Linked DNA regions of Homo sapiens: region 1 is linked to region 2. Evidence: fine-mapped expression QTL. A gene starts in region 2. The other region holds a variant in brackets. All regions are shown on one strand. Distances are between the middles of the regions. Region 1 overlaps SYNRG (synergin gamma). Region 2 holds the start of SYNRG (synergin gamma).

Region 1 (2,912 bases), 72 kb after region 2:
ACTTTGGAAGGCCAAGTCGGGCAGATCACTCGAGCTCAGGAGTTCAAGACAAGCCTGAGCAACATGGTGAAACCCCACCTCTACCAAAAATACAAAAATTAGCCTCATGTGGTGGTGCGTGCCTGTAGTCCCAGCTGCTCTGGAGGCTGAGGTGGGAGGATTGCTTGCGTCCAGTGCAGTGAGCAGAAATCATGCCACTGCACTTCAGCCTGGGCAACAGAGCAAGACCCTATCTCAAAACAAAAACAAAAACAAAAAAAACATAAACTGCTTGAACTAGAGTGATCGTAATAAAAAGGAAAGTCCTCCAAGCACTTTGAATTGACAGAGTCATCAATAGAAGATTCCAGGTTTGTGTGTTTAACCCAGTTCTTTTTAACAAATTCACAGGAAAATGAGAGATATGCATATGAATGGCAGAGATGCCTGGGGAGTGCCCTGAATGTGAGTATGTCACTTACGCGTTCACACATATGTGAGTGCTCTTTTGTGCCTTTTTGCCTTCTTGGTTCATTTGAATTGACAGAGGCAAACTTCAGGAGAGCCTTACTTGGATGTCCCTGGGCAAAGAGTAACTCTGTGGAAGTCATGCATCTAAGGTGAGGCTTCTTTCACACTTACAATAGCAGACCGGCTCATGTGTCAGTCATCCCCTCATCTGTCATTGTGTTTAAGAAATAACAAAGTGATTTCATTAACTCTGACTAAATCAAAATAATATTTAAGCTAAAGAACCTGTCTTGGCTGGGTGCGGTGGCTCAACACCTATAATCCCAGCACTTTGGGAGGCCAAGGCGGGCGGATCACGAGGTCAGGAGTTTGAGACCAGCCTGACCAACATGGTGAAACCCTGTCTCTACTAAAAATGCAAAAATTAGCCAGGCGTGGTGGCACGTGCCTGTAATCTCAGCTACTCAGGAAACTGAGGCAGGAGAATCACTTGAACCCGGGAGTCAGGGGTTCAGTGAGCCGAGATCTTGCCACTGCACTCCAACCTGTGCTACAGAGCGAGACTCCGTCTCAAAACAAAGCAAAACAAAACAAAAGGAAAAAAACATATTTTCTCTTCCAGAGAAATGGAGGATTGTTTCTTCAAGGATAAAATGAGATTTTTTGACACCTCCTGGCTTTTCGGTTGGGTTTTCTACTAATAGTAAATTGATTTGCAATGACTTTTCTCAGTTATGTAAGGTGATGTGATTTCATTTCTTGTAGGTCATTAAGAAGGCAAATGATACCTTAAATGGAATCAGTAGTAGTTCTGTTTGCACAGAAGTAATTCAGTCAGCTCAAGGCATGGAATATTTATTAGGTATGTTCTTTCATATTTTACTATTGAAAATGATGGCCCTTTGCATTATTTTCAGTTTTCCCTTTAATTATTTTAAGCTAGAT[C/A]TCTCAAGTTACATATGACTTCAGTAAGAAGCATCTGTATTTGTGGGTAAGACACTCAAGCTACAGGCAGTAAACTATTGGACTTAATTAAAAAGTCTCTATGGCTAAGTTTCCTCATCCTTGTTATATACGTAATAGCAAAAATGTAAAATTATATCTGTGTTACTGGTTTATCAAAGAATCTGAACTACCGATGCACTAAAGTAAAATCATCTTGTCTCCCATCAATTCCTTACCATACTCTATATTCTTTCTCTCGACCGCTTAATGACACCACAGAGTCCTTAACCTCCTGGCCATCTGCAGCAATTTGATGTGTCAGTCCAACGGGAAAGTGTAGTCTCTGTCCACTTCGGTGTTCCTCCCTTCCCCAAGCTCAGGCTTGGCCCGTGGCCAGAGCCACACATGCTGGACCCTAATCTTTTTCAAATCTTTACTCAAATGTCAGCTTCTGAGTGAAATCTTTCCTAGCATCCATCTCTCCAAAGAGTATCGTCTCTCCCTACCCCGGTACTTCCCATCCCATTCTCTGCTGGATTTTCTCCTTAGCCCTATTACCTTTAATTTCTTACATATGTTACTTATTATTCTTTTCTTTTCTTTTCTTTTTTAAGACAGGTTCACACTCTGTCACCCAGGTTGGAGTGTAGTGATGTAGTCATGACTCACTGCAGCGTCCACCTCCCAGGCGCAAGCAATCATCCCACCTCAGCCTCCCAAGTAGCTGGAACCACAGGTGTGCACCACCATGCACCCAGCTAATTTTTGTAGTTTTTGTAGAGACAGGTTTCCGCCATGTTGCCCAGGCTGGTCTCGAACTCCTGAGCTCAAGCGACCCACCCACCTTGGCCTCCCGAAGTGCTGGGATCACAGGCGTGAGCCACTGCACCTAGCTACTTGTTGTTTTTACTCTCTGTCTCCCTTCACTAGAATGAACCTCCAAGAAGGCAAGGATTTTGGTCTGTTTTGTTCACTGGTGTGTCCCCAACACCTAATCTAGTGTCTTGCACGTAGTTGGCACTCAAAAATATTTGCTGGATGAGTGGAGAGTGAAGGGATGTAGTCTCTGCCTTACTCCTGCCACCTCACTTGGGGTCTTCTTTTCCTGCTCAAACAGGCACAGTTCTGCATAAGCAGATGTCCACCAGGAAATGGGGCACCTGTCTTTTCTCCTAGTATCCTTGTATCTATGGAAGATTCTCTTAGAAGCCCCCTCACTTGGCTTAGGGTGGGCAGTAATTTCTGCCCCTCTCTTGGGAAAGGAAGAAGAAAAGCCGTAGTGCTGACACAGGGCTGCTGAGGCCCCGCTCTGAAGATCCCCTGGAATTCCTCCAGTGTTCACTTAGAGAGATCGGGGTCATGTCTTTGGTGACTGTTACATTGCAGGGGTTAGGGATGTGTCTGGTGGCTGTCCTTAGAATGTGGAGGTACTTAGCACCTCTCATCCTTGCTTCAAGAGTTCAACCACAATTTAGAGACCATAGGAAAAGAACTGTTCTGCATCCTGTTATGTGTTT
Region 2 (2,912 bases):
CACATGACTAGTGTGGCAAGTGCTCTGTTAGATGTAAGGCCATGATGCTAAAGCATCACAAGAGGGCATCTAACCCAGATTGGGGATGTCATGGAAGGCCGACATCCTGAGTTGAATCCTGCAAATGTAAAAACCAATAGGCAAAGAAGAGGAACAAAAAGGATTCCAGGACAAACTGAGGTCACATCTATGATCCTTGACTTTATTGTGTCTGTTTAAAGTATCTACAGTAACCTGTATCAACTTAGTCAGTGTATTAATACTAAATTTAGCTCCTTCAAAGCAGTTGGAACTATGTGCTACATAAATTTCAGCTTCACACAAGGAAGGGAAGGAGTGAAATTAGTGAACAGGCAGTTACAGCAAAAGAAAAAACATAAAAATTGAATAGCTGGCTCTGGTGAAATGAGCAAGGACTTTAGAGTCAAACTGGCCTGGATTTGAATCCTGATCCTCATTGCTTGTAGCTGTATGATCTGGACAAATGACAGTAACTGTTTCTAACCTTGATTTTCTCATCTGTAAGATGCCAATTGTAACTCCTAAGGATACTGAGGATTTTTTAAAATGCGTGTACAGTTCCTGACCAGTGGTTTGTGCCTAATAACTTATTACAAATTATTACCCAGTAAAAACCTTGAGACAAGAGTGAAAACGTAAAGCTAATTAATCCATTACTTGTTAGCAAGCAAACTACGTGCTTGAGAAAATTACTCAACTTTCATGTTTTACTTCCAGACAGTAGTTTGATTAAAAGAAAAAAAAAAATCACAGCCCAGGCATGTGGCTCACACCCTGGCACTTGGAGGCCGAGGTGGGAGCATAGCTTGAGCCTAGCAGTTTGAAACTAGCCTGGGCAACATAGATCCTATCTCTACAAAAAAAAAAAAAAAAAAAAAAAAAAAAATTGGCCCGGTGTGGTGGTGCATGCCTGTGGTCCCAGCTACTCAGGAGGCTGAGGCGAGAGGATCGCTTGAGCCAGGGAGGCTGAGGCTGCTGTGAGCCATGATCATGCCACTGCACTCCAGCCTGGACAACAGAGCAAGACCCTGTCTCAAAAAAAAAAAAAATCAGTAAAAAATATGCCGAAATAGCTTCAGAGTAATTATGAATTGCCTTCCAAAAACCACTGTTTTGCACTTGCCTGCAAGAATAGGAAAAACAAAAGGACTGTAAGGTGGCAGGATGGCAGAACCAAACAAGAGTAGTACACCTTGGAGTTTTTTCGAAATATGGGTTGGGTTTTTGGGCTCTTGGTTGATTTAAAATAAAATTTAAATGCCTTCAGCGTCTGTGATAGGTGCCAACATGAAGCTACCGAGTTCCAGAGAAAGAGGGGAGAGCTGATCACTCATCAGTGCTGCGAGACTATCAAAGGGCCCTTCAGGACCTATCTGTTCTTTGTGTGTAAAGAGTAACAATAAAAGAACACCAGTGTACCCACCGTATAGTTTAAAAATCAGGACTCAGCCTACTCTTTCCACTAACCGCGATCATGGTTTTCAAACGGAGGACCAACGGCGCTTTGCCACTGGGCCGCCAGCTGGGCCCTGCAGAGGGCCTACCAGACAATGAATCAGCTCCCTTGGAGAGGCGCCCGCGACCGCCCCACCAGCCCGAGAGCTAGAATTGAATCTGGGGGACCCCTGCGGCGCCGGGTCACGTGCCGTGGGCGCGCCACGCCTCCCCGAGGGCCGGGGGAGTCACGTGGGCGCGAGGCCCCGCCCCATCGCCCGGTCCGCGGCGAGGTGGGGCCTGGTGTTTGACCCGGAAGTGGCTGTGTTCAGCTGACAGCTGCTGATAAGGTGGCGGCGGCGAAGGCAGCGGCAGGTCGGGAGCAAGATGGCGCTGCGGCCAGGAGCTGGTTCTGGTGGCGGCGGGGCCGCGGGAGCTGGCGCGGGGTCCGCCGGGGGAGGCGGGTAGGTGTGAAGAGCCGGGCGGGAGCCCGCTGGCCTCCGCGGGGGCGGCGAGGGGCGCTTGGCAGTTATGGCAGTTTTCTCCAGCCCTGATCCTTTTCCTTGGAACTGGGCTGCGGGAGGAGGGTCATCCCCCAGGGACCCAGGCCGAAAGGGGCGTGTGGAGCCCAGGTGCTGGACGCTGGTGTTCCGGGATCAGTTGGGGGCGCCGGCCGCCTGGAATCGAGCGGGGAGCGAGCGCGCGCCCAGTGTGGGAGGGGAGAGAAGATGAGGGTCCTCTTGGGGTGGGGGGGGGCGGGGCAAATCAGGAACCGCGACTCCGCTCCTAGTCCTAGCTGCCTCTGAAGCGACCAGGGTCTTCCCTTTCCTTGGGCTTTCTAGACTTAACCGGATATGTTGGAGGGAGGGCTTTAAAAATCTGTTCACAAAGCTGGAGGACTGTTTCCAAGGGGGGTGTGTGTGTGGACTATTTGTCTCTTCCCCTTTTAGAGTGTCCTGTCCTCTTTATTTCCTTAACCCGCGACAAACAGCAGGAACATCTAAAGACCTCTGAATTAGTAATGGTCTTGAGATAGAGTTCTTGTCTTGTACACTAACTCTTAAGACTTGTCTGTCTTCTTTTTAAAAAGGCATTTAAAAACAAAGAAAGTGCACTGTTAAACAGCAGTTGCGCATTTATTAGAACAAAGCTTCCAGACTCAGCCCTTAAACAAATCTGCCCTCTGCCACATTTCAGCCAAGAACTGCCGTGGTTCTTATACCCAGAATGGTAAGGGAGATGTACGTTTTACAAGCTGACAGATTCGTTATCATTTAAGGAAATATTTTATTCTAGGAAGTTTTCACTCCACTTCTATAATGACCTAGTCTGATTTTGTTTTACTAACCAACACACAACAGCACACACATTTGGAGGTAAAAGTAGCTTTGCATCTTCAGTATCCTAAATTGTCTTTGGAAAACGAAGTGTTAGGTTTTTTTTTTATATGCAGTGTT

Evidence for each region. PIP is the estimated chance that this variant, and not a neighbour inherited with it, causes the effect.
Region 1: its variant is fine-mapped to the expression of SYNRG in whole blood (TOPMed, PIP above 0.99).

Annotation. Positions count from the first base shown.
Region 1 is chr17:37,536,724-37,539,635 of GRCh38, reverse strand. It overlaps SYNRG (synergin gamma), which reads left to right. Exons shown (of 22, transcript NM_007247.6): 17 at 391-444; 18 at 1,216-1,312. Among named protein-coding and RNA genes, the nearest start is that of DUSP14, 48 kb to the right of the region's middle. The variant C/A (reference allele first, on the strand shown) is at 1,396.
Region 2 is chr17:37,608,286-37,611,197 of GRCh38, reverse strand. It overlaps SYNRG (synergin gamma), which reads left to right and starts at 1,780. Exons shown (of 22, transcript NM_007247.6): 1 at 1,780-1,919. The coding sequence starts at 1,843. It overlaps DDX52 (DExD-box helicase 52), which reads left to right. Exons shown (of 15, transcript NM_007010.5): 15 at 1-1,459.